Linked DNA regions of Homo sapiens. The protein of the gene in region 2 purifies or fractionates together with the protein of the main gene of each other region. This does not show direct contact. Each region holds a gene or a part of one and is shown on either strand. Other genes may lie near its edges.

Region 1 (6,709 bases), on a different chromosome or scaffold from region 2:
GCCCCCAACCTACAATTTGCCTTATTTCTCAGGTCTTCAATTATGTTCTCCTCTGCCTCTGACTCATTCAAAAGCATTACTGCTATTAGAAACAAACACACTTAGAAAGAGCCATCTTATGTTTCCCCTCCTGCTCTTGCACCCAACCCATCTCCCATCTTCACTGCTTGCAACTCTGAGCTCAATGACTGAGGCCTTCTTCTGTGTCTGGACCACTGGACTTGGTCATTAATCCTGGTGTCCTTAATGTTTAGACAGTGGTTTCCCCAAAGGACTCTAACCTAGACTATTCTGAATTGCTATGTCTTTGCTGCTGTGAGAAAGCAGCTCTAACCCATTTTTCATACAACCCCATCCCACTGACCCTCAACATTGGGTCTTTTTGAATGAAGGTTGTTATGTCCTTGGCTCCTTCATCCTGTCTATTTTTTCTGAGTTCTCACAAGTGAGTCATAATGCTCAACTCCTAGGAGTCAAGGTCTATGATCTGCAGACCTAATGAAATGACAACAAATGTATTGTTGTTTGGAAGCAGGTTTATTTATTATATACTTGCAATTGAATATAAGATACAGACATATATATGTGTTATGTATTTCTAGAAATGCACATAACATATATTTGCCTATTGTTTAATGTTTTTTCCAGATATTTATTACAGAAGGGCATGGAGGGATACCTACTTATTCTTCATTATGAGAACAATTAAAGGCATTTATTAGATAGGAAATTAACAGATCATCTGCTTCTATAACTTTATTAGCTACATTAAATAGGCAGTGAGCAATAATTTAAAAACTCACCATTATATAAAATAATAAATAACAAAGTAAAAGTTAATGTTATAAAAATAAACTGATAGTAAGGAAAATCTAAATGGGCATGATCCCATTTTAGAAGACCAAATGATTAATAGGGTTGTCATGTTATAATAGACAATTGTCTAATTATTTCTGTGTTTTTATTTAGTGGGTAGCAGAAGTTGTTCAGAAGAGCAGAAATATGTAGAAAACATCTCTAAATTTTTGGCAATTTGAAATAGCAATTCTGAGGCACACAGCTCATCTACAAAAATCTTTTGCAGAAGCAGCACGCTTAGTTTTAGGGTGAGGAAAATCTGCCGAAAAATAAAATGCAGTTGGTTATCTTATGCATAATAAGAAAAAGAAAAGGATGATCTGCCACAAACTGTGGGCCTCCATGTCCAGTTCTCCCTGTCATAACACCTCCTGTGCCAGCGGCTGCTTCAGTGCCCTCCTCATTCACATCCACCATGGCTTGGTGGAACACTTCAGAAAGAAACAGGTCATTCCTCTCCGACATCCCTGAGAAATTGGCCCGTCCCTTGTTGAAGGCGTCCTCCATGCCCATGCTTCTCAGAATGGATCTGAGTTCATAATGCTCTTCTAATTTGAACTGGGGTATGTATACCTCAACTTCATCTTCAGCCATTTTGTCTTTGCTGGTCCACTTGTTGAGTTTGTCATAGGTTATTTCACTTTCCAGCTGCAAAGCAAAACAAAACAAAACAAACAAAAGAAAATACAGCAAGTATTAGAAAGAAGGAAAACAACTTTAAGTCTAATATTAAAAATCAGTGACTTTACTATATTGTGGGTGATATAGAAAGTTAACAGATTGGTCAGATTTTTACAAGAAGGTAACACGTATGACATAGTTAAGGCTTTGAATGAAATGTAGAGGCATGCCATATTTACTATCAACTGTTTCATATATTTCCATGAGAAATTACCACACCATTTGTAAGGAGTATATATTCATCTCATCTCACGAAAGGTAGGTATAGCCCCAGAAACTTAAATATCTGAATGTCTTACCAGCTCCAAGCCAGTGGACACATCGGCAATTTCATCTGGAAGCAACAAGAACATGCTAACATCTCCAGCATATGGGAGTTCTAGAATCTGAGCCTTTAGGTCTTCTATGTATCCAATGTTTAGCTTTTCACGCAAGTACATCATCTGTACAGGTGTGCGCTGAGCCTAATATTATTAAAAGGTAAAATATGGAAGTCGATTATAAGATATCAAGAGATTTACAATTAGACATAAAGGAGGATTGGTTCTACTTTAGTGTAGGATAAATGTGATTTTTTTAAATCAACAAAATAAATTATTTGTACATCCTTACAGTGGGTACTCTGATGTTATTAGCTTGTTCAACTTTATACCCATTATTTAGTAAGATGGACAACAATGGTAATGACAACCATAATTCTAAAACACTTGTTTAGTTCTTACTATGGGCCAGGAACCGTGCCATGTCTCAATATTTACAGCCCTTTGAAATAAGTGGTAGAGCCAACGTTGGAGTCTGGGCATGTATAATTAAAAAGCCACAGTCTTCCCCTTTACCTATACTGTTTCTAAAGAGTCAATCAACTGTCCAACATGCATAACTTCTAACTAGCAAGTCTATAATGAGCGGTCTCTAATTTTTCTGTCTATATCTTGTCAAAAGCCCTAAAATATATGCTAGGAAGATGTATTTTGTTGTCTCATACCGAGTTTACACGGAAAGGATAAAGCCCATTTAGTTTCTTCTCAAATGGAGTTTTCCACTTTCCTTTGAAGTAGACAGCATTCACCAGGACCATCCTGGTATCCCCATCTACAGAACCTTCAGGTAACAAGTTTGGGATTTTGCCTACAGAAAACATAACATATATTTAGGTTTCATAATCAAGAACTGTGAAATTACTTACTGAATCTTCTGAGTAGCCATCAAACTAAATTCTTCAAATTGCAGAGTTGTTAATCTTCAAGCTAAAGTTTTTTAGGTTTATTTAAAGCAAAATTAAAATTGAAACAAATTTCCCAAAAGCTTGCAAAATCCAAGAAAAAATGAAGAAATAATGCATTTAAAATTTAGACCGCCTATCAAGTTTGGAATGGAGATTTTCACTCCCTTTTATATTCTTTTCTCAAAGCTTGGCAGTTGAAAGTTATTCAAATCAGAGGGAAGTGAAAGAGAGGTTCTTAGGGAATATAATAGTGCCTTTCCAAAATATATCATGTACTGCTAGATCTGGTCTAGATAGTCTGAGGATCTGACTTACTCATTTATTCAAAAACGTTTTGTAAAAAATATACTAGACCTAAATTAAGAGTAGTGCAGATACAAGAGATGAGAAAGGAAGAATTATCCTGGATGAGCCTAGAACACTGGGGGAGACATTCAAAATCAGTTGTGAAACCCTGTGTGATAACTTCTGTAATTGAGCTAAATAATATATTGAGTACTATGATCATACAGAGAAGGGAGTGAAGGAGTAAGCCCGAGAAGATTGACAGAAACAATGACAAATGAGTGTGGTCATTTAAAAAAATGAAATTGGTTTAAGAAGCAGTTTGTTTATAGTTAGTACTCGCTCTGCAGTATTCCAAGCATCAAAATATATTATTTTGATACTCTATTAGGTGGGTTTTATTAGTGTCATTTTATGCAAAAGGACACCACCAGGTTAGCAGTCTTCCCAACGTTACAATGCTGGTAAGCTTGTAAAAATTCTGCCTCCACAGTCAAAACTACTGACAAATACAAGACTCTTAACAAATTAATAGGTCAATGTGGTTTTGAAGTAGGAGGTGGGACCTGACTCTGGAGGCAGGTTTTAGACACCAGGCCAAATTGAGGGCTAGCTAAAATGGGGACCAGGGACAGGATGGAAGCAGTGTACCATGTCAGTTTACCATTGTGATGGCAACACCTTGGAGTTACCACCTCTTTCTGTGGCAATGACCTGATGACCCAAAAGTTATTCCCCGTTCCCTAGAAATTTCTGCGTAAACTGCCCCTTAATCTACATGTAATTAAAAGTAGGTATAAATATGACCCCCAAACTGCCCTGAGCTGTGCCTCTCAGCACAGTGCCTGGGGTAGCCCTTCTCTGCAGGAGGAATCATGGAGCTGTAATACTGCCACTTCAATAAAGCTGTTTTCTTCTACCCTACCTCCAGCTCACCCTTGAATACTTTCCTGGGTGAAGCCAAGAACCCTTGAAGGCTAAGCCCCACTTTGGAGCTTGCCTGCCTTGCATCAGTTTCATCTTCAATGTATTCATTTAATATATACATTCAATATATTTCCCAAGCTATTAAAATTTTTGGTTAGTATTGGGGTATAGTAATGTTGTGATGTATATGATAAAACTAGTATTTGATCATAGCATGATGAAACAGACAATTCTCTCCAATTCTTACAAAAGCTGGTAAAACAATCTGCCAAAATAGCTGCTTGGCATTTTGGCAAAATAACTGATTGACTTACAGCCATTTAGCACAATGTCTAAAGAGAAAAACAATTCATGCCATTCTTTAAAGAAGGCAAAACTTCCATGTGTCTCTTTAATTTTGCTCTCCATTTTTACTTGAACTTTTGATTTAAATCATCTTTCTCTGCTTCCTTTGTGTCAGTGGTCTGTCAATATTTTAGAACAGTATTTCACAAATCCACAATGAAAATGAAGAACTAAAAGGAAATCAATTATTTTCAGATAAACAAATAAATATATATTTTTTGAAATCCCATAGCACTTAGTTTATGTGCATTTTCCATTGTGGTAATTAATAAAGCAAGACACCAAACTATTTCTTGAAACAATGTCTTAAACATAAGAGTTAAATGAAAATCCTTAAAAAAATAAGTTATAAAATTTTTAAACATCCGATTGAGGAATTCTGGAGTTAGACTAAGGATCAGAAGAAGAAGCAACCCTGGCTTTACCGCTACCAGTGGGATCTTAGGGGAGCCGGCTAATCCCCTGGGAACAGGATGCTCCAACCACAAATTGGTAAGATGGATAGGAGCTCTCTTAGGACATTTTCAATCCTAACAGATCATAAATGAATGAAATACTTACACAATTCTGAATTCATAATCATCTCTGTTTCTTAGAAATACATTTATATGTTATTATTCAGCAATTGTTTACTTAAGGCCTACAACTCTACCTGGAAATTCAGAAGAATGAAGGATTTTCACTGTCAGCAAAAAACTGTGCAAATTTTTGTGGGGGCATAGGATAAGTGTGACATACTGGACCTACCCAAAAATAATTAGAGCCTGAGAGGAAAAGCAAAACAAACTAACAAAAATCAGTTCCATAATTGTTTAAGGCCATATATGGCTAACACTAATGTGACTTGTGAAGCTGAAAAAGCAGATGAGGAGATGAGAAGAAGAAAAGATCAGGAAGTAATTGGGAGTCACTTCCAGGAAAGAGTAAGACTTTGGCTGCAATTTAAACTGCAACTTAAATCCTGTAGTTGAGGCATCCTCAGAAACAAAGTCTAGAGGCAGCAATGAGTGTTTAAGGAGCTCCAAGGGCCAGTGGTAGCCAAGCACAGTCAACTGGATTACTGAGAACTCAGAAGTCAAGGTAAAGAATGAGACCTTCTCCTGAGGACAGTAGGAGGTCACTGACAGTTTTTAGTGTGGGAATAGCATAATAAGTGTACTGCATCACCTCTTTAATTTCACCTCCTTCCCTTGGCCCTCCACACTGCAGTCAGACCAGACTCTATTCTTCTCCTTAGGGTTACCTCTGGACCTTTGCATATTCTGTGCACTCTGTCTGGAAATCTCCCCCCAGGCATGCACCCTCCACCTGGCCAGCTCCAGCCTGTCTTCCCAATTACAATTTAATCATTTTTAAATCCAGTCAGATGCCTTTCCTGTGTACTCCCACATAGCACCTGTACTTCTCAATGAAAGCACTGACTACTACTCTATAGCAATTGCCAACATGACTGAATCCCTCCTCTATAGGCTCTATGGTGGCAGGATTTACCATTTTTATCTTTATCTCCACATATAGTTTCTGGAATATGGTGTGTGGTGGATAAATATTTGTTGACTAAGTGAATGAACTTAATAGAACTTAATGAATGAATGAATTCAATGAATAAATGACTTAATAAACTAAATTACAATGAATAAATGATTCAATTAAATAATTTATTCATTGTAAAATATACAGAGGGAGGCAGGAGCCTGTGAAACAATTAAAAGCATGAGTTAAAATGGTAGACGTGACTTAGATAATCAAGGAGGGATGAAGCAGAGACCAAAAAAACTTGACAATGGATTGGCTTTGAATGGTGAAAGAGAAGAAAGAGTGAAAATAATTTTATGATTCTTCCCTCCTCCACTGCCTGTATTCTTTATAGCTCACACCATTTACTAAGCTCAGGGTCAAGCCTTGTTTTCTTTTTGTCCACAGTGGGCATAGACTCACAATTATTTCAATGCTGATATTTCCTATTTTGAAAGCTTCTGCCTCCTTTCATATTCTATCCTCAAGCAATATCCAAAATCAAATATTTAAGTACTAAACATATGTCTTCTATTAGTAGGCCTCAATTATTTCTTCTCAGTTAAAACACCACTGAGCTAATCAGGAATAAATTCACATCCACCAAAGTAACTGCAGTTGGACAAATTGTAAAGGGGTGAGGGCTAACTAAGTTCATGGATGGAAAAAGATAGATCAGAGTTTTCTAACTGGAAAGAAGTAAATAAAATATTTTCTTGGATTTACCTTTGGTTTGAGTCTTGACCCAGGAATTAATCTTTTTTCTAGCTTCTTCTGCACATTCTAGGAAGTCTACTGCCTGGGGTTCTGAGGAGTAATATTTCTGACAGAGTCGAATATATTCCTTTAAAGCAAGAAAATGACAAAGGCTAC
Region 2 (7,025 bases):
CAAGGCATGGTGGCAGGGCTGGGGGTGATGGGGAGTGGTAACAAAACCATGTGGTTCAGAGCCAGATACTGATTCCAGTGTAGGTCTAAGCCAAGTCCCAGGCTCTATTCCCCAGGTATTTCCGATATGTGTGGTGATTGAGAACTATTGCCCTAAATTCTTTGTTCCTTGGATGATGGGTTTTAATCATCTCTGCCTACCTCTTGTGCCTGCTCGTGATGTTGCCCAGCAATGTGGTACCAGCAATACTTGGACAAAGGCTTTGCTGATTAGCTTACTAAGCTATAGCTGTGTCCTTAACTTTATGTCCTCCATACAGAATTCCTATGGTAAGATTTTATCATTGAATAATAAATCCTATTCAAGTGGTTAGGATTGTTTTACTCCTCCCCACAGCAAACCTATAGAGGAAGGTCAACTGCATGGCCTGGAGGGAAAGAATACTTAGGTCAGTACCTACTCCTTTAGCATCCAATTGGAATTTAGGAGAGAAGGCTTCTGTGCACTTGAATAGAAGCCCCTCAGTGGGTACTGGATCAGACTTAGGCCTTTTCATGGAGCTGTAAGCCATTTGGAACACTTAGCACATACTGTAGAGAAGCAGGAGTGGTGCTTCCAGATGTAGAGAGACAGGTGATACAGGAGAGGAAGCTGTACAGGAAGAGGGGAGTTCATTTTAGATGGTTTAAGCTCTATGTGCCTGTGAGGTAGCAGTGACAGTGTCCAATAATCATTTGAATGTACCGGACTGGAGCATGAATCTGAGCTTAGAGGTAAGGAATGAAGAGTTATAGTAGCTGTTCAAATACAGAGAAAGGTTGCAGAATGAAAGTGGAGAAGCTAGGCATGGTAGTGCACACCTGTAGTCCCTGTTGCTGGGGAGGCTGAGGTGGGAGGATCACTTGAGTGCAGTAGTTTGAGTCCAGCTTGGGCAACATAGCAAGACCCCCATCTCTAAAAAAAGAAAAGAAAGTGGATAGAAGATAGATCTCTAAAGACTGTTAGCATTTTTGAGGGACAAGCTCCCAGATGGAGTGGAAGGAGGAAACCCAGGAGAAGGTAATAAAAGAACAGAGATCAAGATAAGAGAGGCTATGGTCCCAGTGTTAAATGCTGCCAAGAAGTTTCTGATTCTGTAAATATTCACTGGGTGCCTACTCTGTGCCACTATTCTTGTTTTTTGTTTTTGTTTTTGTTTTTGTTTTGTTTTGTTTTAATTTTTTAGTAGAACTAGAGTCTAGCTATGTTGCCCAGGCTGGTCTCAGAACTGACCTCAGGTGATCCTGCCAGAGTGTTGGGATTACAGACGTGAGCTACCAAGTGCTAGAGTAGAGGAGAGGCAGATTGAACAAAGTTCTTGCCTTTATGAGCTTATGTTCTAGTGAGGAAGACATTTTTTCAGGTAGTGGTAAGTAGCAAGAAGATGAAGCAGCATAAAGGGATACAGAGTGACAGGAGGGGCTCACTATTTTAGATAGAATGATCAGGAAGAACCTCTCTAGAGGTGACATTTGAGCAGTGACCTGATCAAAGCAAGAAGGTAAAGAGTGCTGGCATTACAGGCAGCCAGACAAGTGCCAAGACTAGACAGGAACATTTTGTGTGTGTGTGTGTGTGTGTTCAAGGAACAAACAGCAAGGTGTCCCGTGTGGTTGGAGTGAGTTGGAAAGAGTGGAGGAGGTTGAGGTCACATAGGGCCTTTTGGCTTGCAGGCCACAGGAAGGTTTTTTTTGTTTTGTTTTGTTTTGTTTTTGAGATGCGGAGTCTTGCTATGTCACCCAGGCTGTAGTGCAGTGGCTCAATCTTGGCTCACTGCAACCTCCACCTCCCAGGTTCAAGCAATTCTCCCTGCCTCAGCCTCCCGAGTACCTGGGCTTACCAGTGCCCGTCACCACGCCTAATTTTTTTTTTTTTTTTTTAAGTAGAGACCGGGCTTCGCCATGTTGGTCAGGCTAGTCTTGAACTCCCGACCTCAGGTGATCCGCCTACTTCGGCATCCCGAAGTACTGGGATTACAAGTGTGAGCCACTGCGCCTGGCCAGGAAGAAGTTTTTATTCCAGTTTGATGGGTACTTTAGGTAGATTTTGAGCAGGGGAGTGAAGTGCTCTTAAGAAGTTATGCTGATGGCTTGAAGAGAGTAGGCCATAATTGGCAGAATAGAGGCAGAGAAGAGAGTTAAGAAGCAACGAGGGTGATACAGGTGAGCAGTGACAAATGGCAGCTCAGAATCAAAAGCGAGCAGCCTACCAATGAAGGTGGACATAGCAGGAATTGTGCACAGTCTGGTGTGGGATAACTTGAATGTAGGTATTTGGTCTCAGCAACTAGGTGAATGGAAATGCCCTGTACAATATTAGGGAAGACTTGGGGAGTGGAGCAGTGGGATGAAGAGCTCTGGCTTGTAAGTGTGAAGACTCTGGGGACCTTGGCAAGAGGAGTCTCAGGAGAGTGACAGCAGCAAGGGACAAACAGGAGTGGGTTAAGGAGAGATGGGAGATGAGAAGCTGACACCAGGACATGATGCTTTGAGCAAATGAGAGGACACATCCGGGGAGTTGTGGGGAGGGGGATGGGAACAAAGGAAACACGTTGGGGAAAATCTCTGGCAGAGAAGGAGAAAGCCTTCAAAAAGACGCAGTTGCGGGGACAGTGTTCTGCACAAGTGGGAGGGGATCAACTGCACTGATGGAGTTGGCTTTAGTGGGAAGAAAAGAACTCTCACACTGACACAGGAGGGCAAGTGGTATCAGTGAGCATCAGCACATCACCAGCTTACCCGTAAAGGCAACAGGAAGTTGAGGGATTGTCTATGTTGTTTCCCTGTGGTCTAATTATTCCCATTGAGATTTGAACCCTGTTAGGATACTGAGAGTGCAGAATTTGGGGGAAAGGGAACAGAATCTCTCTTAAGAACATGTCATGTTCAATATCCATTTTTGAAAACACAGTCCAGTTTGGAGAACACTGCCAGATCTGATCTGCCTATCTGATAACCTTCAGACAGTAAATAAGCTCTGTTAAAATGAACTTTTTTCAGGCTTGGCACAGTGGCTCACGCCTGTAATCCCAGCACTTTGGGAGGCTGAGGTGGGCAGATCACTTGAGGCCAGGAGTTTGAGACCAGCCTGGCCAACATGGTGAAACCCCGTCTCTACTAAAAATACAAAAATTAGCCAGGCGTGCTGGCGGGTGCTCAGCTACTTGGGAGGCTGAGGCAGGAGAATCGCTTGAACCCAGGGGGCAGAGGTTGCAATGAGCCAAGATTGCATCACTGCACTCCAGCCTAAAAAGATTTCTTTTTGTCTTGATACAGAGTTCAAACAGCATATAGACATACTCTTCCACAGAGAACCCTTTGAGGTAACAGCAAATTACAGCTTACCTCTGAAATCTTTACTCAGCTGTTCACTTTGCTCAGTTCTTTGAAGGATGTTTGGTAGATGTAAAATAATTCATGAAATTGTCTCATAAACTGCTTGGCAGGTTTAGAGGAATACCAGGGGTCCAGAGACATCCTTTTGTCCATCTGTGTTCCTTGTGGAGGCACTGAATACGGGGAATATTTTACAGCCTAAAGACCTGTCATGCTGCTCTGCACAGCAGCCACTGGGTGGCTCTCTTGACCAGCAGTTCTTCAAGCTAGTGCCACAAAAGGGTTAGTTACTGTGAAAAGGAGAAGGTAAAAATGTGCTCAGTATTACTTGGGTTTTACATATTTGAGCATAATATAGCTACCTGTAAAATTACTATCTACCATGCAAGTATGATACATTGTACCTGGTAGGCACTCATTATTTATTGAACAACTCTATTATGGGTGTGGAGGTGATAAGAGTGCCTCTCTTGATGATGCTGTTTGCTGAGATGTCCAGTCATTCCTGTGACTGGGTGGGAAATGTATATGGGCAGAATAGGCAGCAGAGATATCTGACCTACAACTGTGATTTAGTGTCTTGCTTTGGCTGAGTAAGCAAAGTCTCTGTAGAACATAAGAATAAAAGGCACTTATTTTCTGGTCAAAAACAAAAGAAATTTGTCAGTCATGAATTCTTATCAAAGCATTTCGGGGCCGGGCGCGGTGGCTTACGCCTGTAATCCCAACATTTTGGGAGGATCTGGTGGATCACCTGAGATCAGGAGTTCGAGACCAACCTGACCAAAATGGAGAAACCCCGTCTCTACTGAAAATACAAAAATTAGCTGGGCATGGTGGCGCATGCCTGTAATCCCACCTAGTCGGGAGGCCGAGGCAGGAGAATCACTTGAACCTGGGAGGCGGAGGTTCTGTGAGCCGAGATCGCACCATTGCACTACAGCCTGGGCAACAAGAGTGAAACTCCGTCTCAAAAAAAAAAAAAAAGCTTATCAAAGCATTTAAACTGAACTAAAATCAAAGACCAGTGCTCTATTTTACAGGTTTACTTAGAAAGGCTTTTAACTTATGCTGAAATCGACATTTGTCCCACCAACTGGAAAAGGATTGTTCTGGGAGCCATTCTTCTTGCCTCCAAGGTTTGGGACGATCAGGCTGTATGGAATGTGGACTACTGCCAGATCCTCAAGGACATTACAGTTGAGGACATGTGAGTTTGTAAGGTTTTGGTGAACTTTCTAACCATTTTCCAGTATCTTATTCCTATAAAGTTAACAATTTAAGGAATATTTTTAAAGGTTACATTATGCAGATAATGGAAATAGGCATAAGACTATATCTGTCTATCTTTAGTATAACAGTTCACAATAGAGCAAGACTGTCTCAAAAAAAAAAAAACTAACTTCATATTTTCCATCATTACTTGGTAGGTTTTGATGTGTAATAATCTGCTTGATAAATTGAAAAATATTTTTTGGGTGGTTTTTGGCAAAAATCTTACAAGTATACTACCAGAACAACATAGCACAGTAAATATCTTTATTTTATTTTATTTTTTGTTTTGAGACGGAGTCTTGCTCGGTTGCCTAGGCTGGAGTGCAGTGATGCAGTCTCGGCTCACTGCAAGCTCCACCTCCCAGGTTCAAGCGATTCTCCTGCCTCAGCTTCCTGAGTAGCTGGGATTACAGTGGGATTACAGGCATGCGCCACCATGCCTGGCTAATTTTTGTATTTTTAGTAGAGACGAGGTTTCACTGTGTTGGTCAGGCTGGTCTTGAACTCCTGACCTTGTGATTCGCCCGCCTCCGTCTCCCAAAGAGCTGGGATTACAGGCATGAACCACTACGCCTGGCCTCTTTATGGCTTTTAAAAAGTTATCTGCCAGTTCAAGCTCCTTTCTCTTTTTCATTCATTCATTCATTCATTCATTTATATCTTTTCATGTGACCAGTAGGGTATAAACAGCCCTTAAAGGGCATATGTCTGGCCTTTGAAATAATTGTTTGGCCACTATTAGGTCTTAGGGCCTCTGGACTATTGAGAAGTTACGTAGCTTCAACCTGAGTCACACATTGTATATTTGCTTTTGCTAGTCTTTCCACATTTTATCTGAAGGTCTGTTTTTACAGAAGCCTTGAGATATGAAGATCCCTGTGCCCCTGACCCCTCCCCATTAGGAGTGTTTTTTGTATTTAGAAATTGGTCTCCTGAGTTAGGAAGCTCCAGCGTTCCCCTCAGGCGGTCTGAGAAGCACTGCTGGGGCATCATCCAACGCTCACCACACTCGAGAGGCTCCCTGGGCACTCGGACAACCACAGCACCACTTTGGGGGCCTTGAGTTACCTATGAGAGTGCAAGGATCCTTGCTGAGTCATGGAGTTCCTCACAGATGGCACCAATATGACCCTGAAACAGCAGCTTCATCAGGGTTCCTTCCAGGCTGGCCTCGTGTCGGCCGTGAAGGGAAGGGCCTTGGAGCTTGGTAGGCAGGCTGAGCCAGGGAGGCATTTCCAGCAAAGGCTCTCAGGGTGCCCACCAGACAGTGAGAATGGCTTTGTGGGTGGCATTTAGAAAAATATGAAGGAGCACCTCTTGATGATGTTGAGCAGCAGAGGAAGATCAAGGTCATGACAGGCAGTGGCAAGAGTTTGTTTTTATTGCCTTTGCCCATTACTCCATATGACTGTCATTCAGAATTACCATACCATATATTCACAACTGAAGTGAGGATACTTGTGACTAAAAAGGAACCAGTAATTGTGGTAGCTGTTGAAGTGGCTTCTGGTGAAGTTGACCACTTTACTGTTTACCGAACAGCCCTAGTGATATTGCTGGTAGCCGTTTTAGCAAAGGGTGTGACAGCAAATGAATTTGAAACAAATGGAAGTACTTTTGGAAATTGCAGAAACTAAAGTGACTTTGATCACTGCTGTCATCCGTCTGCAAACTGGTTTCTTGAAGGAAGCAAAATTTATTATTATGAACACTTAGCCCTACCATGATGGCAGCTAAAATGTTCTCAAAACCTGCAACTGAACTGACTGGTGCTCTAGTTCAAGATACAGTATCAGAGAACCTGCAGGGAAATGTGCAGGTTTCTACAGATGTAAGCTTCAGGAGCAGTGGTGGCAGGGGCCAGCTCCAAGAAGACCAGTTCTAAATAGTGCTGTTTGTGTATGCCCAGGGAAGCACCAGGAGCTATGCTACAAACAGGCTGCTTTTGTTTATGATCTTTGGAAAGCATTTCAACAAACTGTTTAATATACATTTGTCTCATCCCCCTGCTGTTGACTATTTGTAGTGGTCTCATTTTGAGTCTAAATTGAAACAATTTTAAATTGGTGTCTATCAGGTTTTTCTTAAAAATTTTCAACAGCTACATGTCCTGTTAGAATATATTTCCCTTTAAAAGAATAAGTTAAACTGAGCAGCTGCTATTCAGACGGTTTGCTGTGCCTGTAAAGGGTATGCTATTCAGCCACCTAGCCATTTAAAAAAAAACAAAAAACCTAGAAGATGCATATTCTGTAAGCATAATGCTTTTCTTCAGTGATTAAACCTCTATTAATATGTGTGTTAATCCTATGAAGTACTATATTTCTACACAGTTAAAATGTATTAGTGGAAAAAATATAAAAGGGATTGTGAAGT
Region 3 (7,207 bases), about 120 Mb from region 2:
CCAGTGAATTCTGTCCAGAACAGTGTCAAATGCTCACCTGCACATTAGAATCATTTGGGGGCTTTTGAAAAACCCCAGTGCCAGCCAGGCATGGTGGCTCATGCCTGTAATCCCAGCACACTGGGAGACTGAGGTAGGTGGAATGCTTGAGCTTAGGAGTTCAAGACCAGCCTGGGCAACATGGTGAAATCCTGTCTCTACAAAATATACAAAAATTAGCTGGGCGTGGTGGCGCACACCTGTCATCCTAGCTACTTGGGAGGCTGCAGCACAAGAATTGCTTGAACCTGGGAGGTGGAGGTTGCAGTAAGCCGAGATCACACCACTGCACTCCAGCCTGGGTGACAGAGTGAGACTCTGTCTCAAAAAAAAAAAAAAAAAAAAGTAATTTACAGAAAAATAAGAAAGAAAAACCCCAGTGACTAGCTTCCATATTGGACTCATTAAAACCAGACTCTCTAGGTGGAGCCTGGATGTCAGTGTTTGAGAAGCTCCAGATGACTCTAATGCTTGGTCAGGGTTGAAACTCCTGCTGCCTCATTAGATCTCTGTCCCGAGACCTTTTGTTCCAGTCTCTCCTGGGGAAGGGTCCACCCTGACCTCTGGCCTTTCATTCTTTCCCCTATCCCAGCCCTCTGTCCAAGCCCACAGCTCCTTGAGCTTCCTCAGTGTCCATGTTCACCCTTACATCCATTAAAGCCCCCTCATCCTAGGCTGGGCACAGTGGCTCATGCCTGTAATCCCAGAACTTTGGAAGGCTGAGGCGGGTGGATCACTTGAGATTAGGAGTTCAAGACCAGCCTGGCCAACATGGTGAAACTCCATCTCTGCTAAAAATACAAAATTAGCCAGGCATGGTGGTGCGTGCCTGTAGTCCCAGCTACTTAGGAGGCTGAGGCAGGAGAATTGCTGGAACCCGGGAGGCAGAGGTTGCAGTGAGCCGAGATGGCACTACTGCACTCTAGCCTGGGCAACAGAGGAAGAATCTGTCACACACACACACACACACACACACACACACACACACACACAAGCCCCCTTATCCTTCCAGGCCCGTATCAAGCCCCAGCTGTCCAAGGAAACTTCCAGGACATTAAGTGGCCTCCGCCTTCTCTGGGAGTTCTCCCAGCCCTCTCCCCTGGGAGCACATACTTTAGCCTGTTTTATAGCATAAACTGGCTGCTTCACATCTCAACTGGAGCAAGGACACACCTGATGCCTCTGTTCCTCAAGCAGCCCAGCAAAGAGTCTATTCCATTCCACTCAACGTCTGTGCTGGGGGCTTGGCACTGGGGGTGACATGCACAGAGACAAAGAATAGCCCATGTTTTATGGTTTAGCTGCAGGGTGCAGTGAACAAGGGAGCCACCATACCCAGTGAAACCGCAGACGAACTTCCTCTAAGTGGGGAATGTCACAGAATCACAGATGTCAGCATTAGAAAGTGCTAAAGTTGAAGAGGGGAGCTGGGGCCGGGGGGGAGGAATAAAACAAAAAAAAGAAAGCGCTAAAGTTCTTATCTAGTCCTGCTCTGCCTGCACCGCCCTACACATACCCATACACGCATAGTGCAGAAATCTCTTCTATAGCATCCCTTACCATCCTCTTCTTGAAGGCTTCCAGTGATGGGAAACTCACCACCTTACCAAACAGCCTCTTCTACACCTCTTAAAGCCTTTACTTTTCCCCACTCTGCCATAGTGTGGTGAGTTATGGACCCGCCTACCTCCACTACTACACTGTAGGGTCCTTTAGGGCAGGAAGTGTATTTTGCCTCTGGATCTAGCTGGAACCTCATGCAGGTGCTCAAAGAATGCATTTGATTAACTGGACCTGCTGGGCTCTGATTATTAGACTGGGGTGGCACCTAAGGGATAGCCCAGGATTTCAAAAGGCTGGGACAGGCTGGAGCAGCCCCAGGAGGCAGAGAGCAGGGGCTAGGGGTCCCAGACTGCCATGGGGCTGGGGGAGGGGAGGACGCAAGTCCTGCTGGCTGTCCCATGGTCCTGACTTAGGCTGTCTTTGAGGACACACTGGGGGACCTCGGAGAGGAGGTCACCGTTACACACACCTTTAAGGAAAGACTTGACAGCCATCAGAGGGACAAAAATCCTGCCGGGGTCCAGTGGTACCTTTGCCTTCCTCAGACCCTGATTCCACTGACCCCCAATAGGTCTCTTCCCTTCACAGTCCCTGCTTGCCCCTAGGTGTGAAATGAAACAGCACCTCCACTTCTCCTGGTGGAGGTAGGTGCCCACCCTCGAAACCAAACTGAATCTCCCAGCCTGGGACATGGCATTCTCAGAATCTAGGTCCAGAGGCCTCATTTGGGGATTCCAAATGGTTTTTCCCCTGATACCAAATAGGTCTCCTACCCTTCCCCAGGGTCAACCACTTCCTCCCTCCCCACCTCCTACCTCAGACAGTCCACCTAGACCCTCAGCCAAGGTCTTCCAGAGTTTGCAAAATAATCAAATGTGCCACTTGCATTTGAATTCAAATGGCTAGGACTGCCCTGCCCCCTCCCCAAGCCACTCCCACCCAAATAGCATCACACCACAGTCCTGTCTTGGGGACAGGCAGCTTCTAATCTGATTTCACCTCCAGTCTGGCTGAGGGCCTTCAGGAGCAGTGTGGTGGCCTCCGTCAGGAGGTCTGGCACAGCTGGGACAAGCCCTGACCCAAGAGTTCCTCCATGTGCAGCATGGGCACAGCCCACCCATCCTCCCGGGCAGCTTCACAGCTGCCATCAGATCAGGTGCCTGGAGCCTGGCATAAGGCTGGCAGGACAGCAGGCTGGGGGAACTCCACCCTGGCACAATGTGGTATCCAGAAATGTGGGTCTCTGTTCCCAGGCCACCACAGCCAGCCCTCGCCTGCCCACCCAGGAGGGTACCAGCCAGCCGCGCTGGCAGCCACCCTGCCACCTTCACCTTTCAACACTCCTACTTTCCTTTCTTCCTCCTACCTCTGCTTCGTAGGTTCGTCTTCCTTCCAGCCTGCCCCACCCGGCTTCTCACTTCCCTCTTACTTCTCTGGCTGCCCCAACCACCAGCCCCACCCACCAGCCCCACCCCTGGGCTCCTTCCCCAGCCGGTGTGGAGGCGATGTCCCCCGACAGGGAGGGGCAGGCAGTGCTGGGAGGCCAGCAGGCCTGAAGCAGAAGAGCAGTCACTGGGGTGGGCAGTGGGTATGCCAGGCCGTCTCCTCAGAGGGGCACACAGGGAGGCTGGAGGTCCACACAGCCCCACCACAGTGGCCTCAGCCCGCTGCAGGTCACAGCCAAGGCAAATCAGGGAGGGCATCTCTGAGTCTGAGACCAGCAAGGAAAGCCATGTTCTCCATTCAGGGCCTGGGGCAGGCGCGGCACAGCCCCCACCGCTGCTGGGTTAGTCACATTTTCTGGGCAGGGTCACTGGCTTCACATTACTTTTTCCTCCTCCCTCAGTTTGTCTTTCTCCTTGCCCTGAATGCAAGTATTTGATTTTTTTTAAGATCAGTTTTTTGGTTTTTTTTGTTTTTTTTTTTTTCCTGAGACAGGGTTCACTGTCACGCAAGCTGGAGTGCCGTGGCATTATCACCGCTAACCGCAGCCTTGAACTCCTGGGCTCAAGCGATCCTCCTGCCTCAGCCTCCTGAGCAGCTGACACCACAGGCCTGCACCAACATGCCCGACTAATTTTTTTATTTTTTCTGGAGACAGAGTCTTGCTACTCAGGCTGGTCTAGAACTCCTGAACTGAAGCAATCCTCCCACTTTGGCCTCCCAAAGTGCTGGGATTACAGGCGTGGGCTACTGCACCTGGCTAAGCTCAGTTCTCAGGGAATGGCTGAGGCCATAAAACATTCTTCACCATCTTCCGCATGCCATGCTGATGCCTCTCAGGTCTCTACCCTTTGGTCTGCTTCTCATTCACCAGATGTTTATCATCATGACTTCTGGGCCCTGGGCCCTCTGAGAGACAGCCCATCCTGGGTTGACCCAGGGCAACTATCCTGCCTACATCACAGTCACTAGACCCTAGAGCTTGTCTCCTCCAACTCGCTGGCTTTCTGGAGGACACCGAGGTCCTGAGAGCACAAGAGACTGCCCACAAACACACAGGGAGTGGAAGCCCCTGCAAGGGAGGCTCCCATTCCCTTCTGAATCCCTGGGGGAAGGATGAGCGGACTCAGTATGAGGCTCCAGGAGAAAGTGAGCACCCAGTTATGCAGCCACACAAGCGTAGTTCCTCTGCCCAGAACCTAGCCGGCCTGTCCTGGAAAGGTATTGGTCAGCAGGCTGGCTTGAGACAAGGCTCCAGGTTCAGGGTCAAGGCCTGGGGACCCTGGAGCAAAATCTGGAACAAATCTTCCTAATTAGCAGACCTTCAAACAAAACCTCATTATTTGACTGCGTGGGAAAAGTCTGGAGAAAATACAGTACTGGATAGGCTGGGCATGGTGGCTGTCTCCGGTAATCCCAGCACTTTGGGAGACTGAGGCAGGCAGATTACCTGAGGTCAGGAGTTCAAGACCAGCCTGGCCAACATGGTGAAACCCTGTCTCTACTAAAAATACAAAAATTAGCCGGGCATGGTCATGGGTGCCTGTAATCCTAGCTACTGGAGCGACTGAGGCAGAAGAATCACTTGAACCCAGGAGGCGGAGGCTGCAGAGAGCCGAGATGGCGCCACTGCACTCCAGCCTGGGAGACAAAGCAAGACTCCATCTCAAAAAAAAAAAAAGCAATACTGGATGAATGTTTCTCATTGAAACGAAATTGATAAAATTTCACTAGAGCAAGACGGGAAGTTAAATCTTCTCCCCAAAGAACATGGCCTGTAGCTAGCATCCAAGTGTCTCCATGGCCAAACTGCCAGGCTTAAAAATAGGGTAATATGGGCCGGGCGCGGTGGCTCACGCCTGTAATCCCAGCACTTTGGGAGGCCAAGGCGGGTGGATCATGAGGTCAGGAGTTCGAGACCAGCCTGGCCAGCATGGTTAAACCGCCATCTCTACTAAAGACACAAAAAATTAGCCGGGGGTGGTGGCGCATGCCTGTAATCTCAGCTATTCAGGAGGCTGAGGCAGGAGAATCGCTTGAACCCGGGAGGCAGAGGTTGCAGTGAGCCGAGATTGCGCCATTGCACTCCAGCCTGGGTGACTGGGCAAGACTCAGTCTCAAAAAATAATAATAATAACAATAATAATAGGGTAGTTTGGTGGAGGGTGGGAGGAGGGAGAGATTCAGGAAAATAACTAATGGGTACTAGGCTTAATACCGGGGAGACAAAATAATCTGTACAACAAAGCCCCATGACACGAGTTTACCTATATAACAAACATGCACATGTACCCCTGAACTTAAAAGTTTAAAAAAGAAAAAAAAGGATAGTCTGGGTGAGAATCCCAGTAGGGCCTAGTCCCCACAAAACCACAGGCTGGGCGGTTAACCTGGTAGAGTGATAAGAGCTAGACAATTTGGCTCCTTACTAGCTGTGCAAGTGACTTAACCTCCTGGAGCCTCCCTGTGCCCCAATCTGTAACACGTGCATACAGTTAAATGTGAAGATGAAATGAGATCCTATGATTAATGAGCAAATAATACATGCTCGATAAACCCAGACTTCTTTCTCTTCCCTTTAGTTTGCAATGTGCCATCAGCACCTGAGGTAGAAATGTGCCTGGCCACTCCCCTAGCTCCCGGTTTCTCCACAGGAGGAAAGAAAGTTAAACCACAGAGCACTCTCCTATTTCCATCCCCAGCCCCAGCGCTGGAAAGCTTCATAGATTTTGGTCACAACAGCGCATACCTTGGGTGGCTCTTAAGTTCTGGACTCTGTGACCCACGGAGGGAACAAGGATCAATGGGAATCACTGTTCCTCACACTCAGCTGTCTAGGCTAAAGCCTCTCCTATCACCACAGGAAAAAAGGGGAGAGGTTTACACATTAACAGCGAAACAACTGGCTGGGCGCAGTGGCTCACGCCTGTAATCCCAACACTCTGGGAGGCCGTGGCGGGCGGATCACCTGAGGTCAGAAGTTCGAGACCAGCCTGACCAACGTGGCGAAACCCCATCTCTACTAATAATACAAAAATTAGCTGGGCGTGGTGGCGGGCGCCTATAATCTCAGCTACTCGGGAGGCTAAGGCAGGAGAATCGCTTGAACCCGGGAGGCGGAGGTTGCGGTGAGCCGAGATCTCGCCACTGCACTCCAGCCTGGGCAATAAAAACAAAACTCCGTCTCAAAAAACAAACAACAACAACAGCGAAACAAAAGGGCCGGTCGCTCAGCCTAGGACTCTCGGGAGCGGCTAGGAACTCAATGCACATGCTAATGAGTTATCTGGTAACGACGCTCTAGAACTAGTTTTTTTACCAGACGCACAGTGTTCCTACCCTTGTGGTCTCCCCTGAGCACTACTGCTTAGTTTGTCCCAAATGAAGTAAAATAAAGTATTTCTTTAGCACGGACCCACCCTCTCCCGCCTTTTCTTACAGGAAGCCAGGAGACGGCGCGCCCCTAAGAGAGGACCCCGGCTGTGGGAGAAGAGGAGGGAGCGGGGCGCCCCCGAACCGGCTAAGCCCGTTCGACCCCTACATGGGGAGCCCAGGTCCCCGGCGACCGGACCCCGAAGCGCACTACTTGCCTGCCAACGCCTTGCTCCGAGGCCCTGGGCGCTGTCTCAGCCGCCCCCCGCCCCCTGGAGGTGCGCGGCCAGGAGCCGCCCCCGGTGAGTCAGAGGGAGGGGCCCGGCCGGTCTGAGCTGGCGGGGAGCCCCTATGGGAGGCTGGGGCGCCCGAAAGGGTCCTAGAATTGGGCGTGGGAAGGAGGGTATAGGGGAAGCTAAGGACAAGCTTACTGTGCTGTAAACTTTGCGAGAGAATTGCAGTGTTCACTTCCATTCAATCGTTAGGCCCCCGGCCTCAATCACCCTGTGAACAGCTACTGTTCTGTGAGAGCCTACTATGTGCTTGGTGCGTCCTCACATCTACTATCATTATTCCTGCTGGAAACATGAAGTCTTTGGGAGGCTCAGAGAGGGTAACTAACTTGTCCAGAGTGTCACATTGCTAGTTCAGTAGCAGAACTAAGATTTTTTTTTTTTTTTTTGAGACAGGGTCTCACTCTGTCGCGGCACCTGGAGTGCGGTGCTGTGATCACAGCTCACTACAGCCTCAACCTCCCAGGCTCAAGCAATCCTCCAGCCTCAGCCTCCTG

Evidence for each region.
Region 1: the proteins of CCNYL1 (region 2) and SERPINB2 purify together in Homo sapiens (affinity purification with mass spectrometry; 2 studies listed by BioGRID and IntAct, with this or other methods). This does not show direct contact.
Region 3: the proteins of CCNYL1 (region 2) and CAPG purify together in Homo sapiens (affinity purification with mass spectrometry; 2 studies listed by BioGRID and IntAct, with this or other methods). This does not show direct contact.

Annotation. Positions count from the first base shown.
Region 1 is NC_000018.10:63,897,698-63,904,406, reverse strand, and holds the end of SERPINB2 (plasminogen activator inhibitor 2), read right to left. Parts: intron 6,681-6,709; coding exon 6,563-6,680; intron 2,668-6,562; coding exon 2,525-2,667; intron 2,004-2,524; coding exon 1,839-2,003; intron 1,507-1,838; coding exon 1,102-1,506; 3' UTR 519-1,101; downstream 1-518. UniProt on the Homo sapiens protein: Inhibits urokinase-type plasminogen activator. The monocyte derived PAI-2 is distinct from the endothelial cell-derived PAI-1.
Region 2 is NC_000002.12:207,742,630-207,749,654, forward strand, and holds part of CCNYL1 (cyclin-Y-like protein 1), read left to right. Parts: intron 1-4,417; coding exon 4,418-4,584; intron 4,585-7,025. UniProt on the Homo sapiens protein: Key regulator of Wnt signaling implicated in various biological processes including male fertility, embryonic neurogenesis and cortex development. Activates the cyclin-dependent kinase CDK16, and promotes sperm maturation.
Region 3 is NC_000002.12:85,407,349-85,414,555, forward strand, and holds the start of CAPG (macrophage-capping protein), read right to left. Parts: upstream 3,019-7,207; 5' UTR 2,969-3,018; intron 2,962-2,968; exon of another isoform or gene 2,934-2,961; intron 2,465-2,933; exon of another isoform or gene 1,213-2,464; intron 1-1,212. UniProt on the Homo sapiens protein: Calcium-sensitive protein which reversibly blocks the barbed ends of actin filaments but does not sever preformed actin filaments. May play an important role in macrophage function.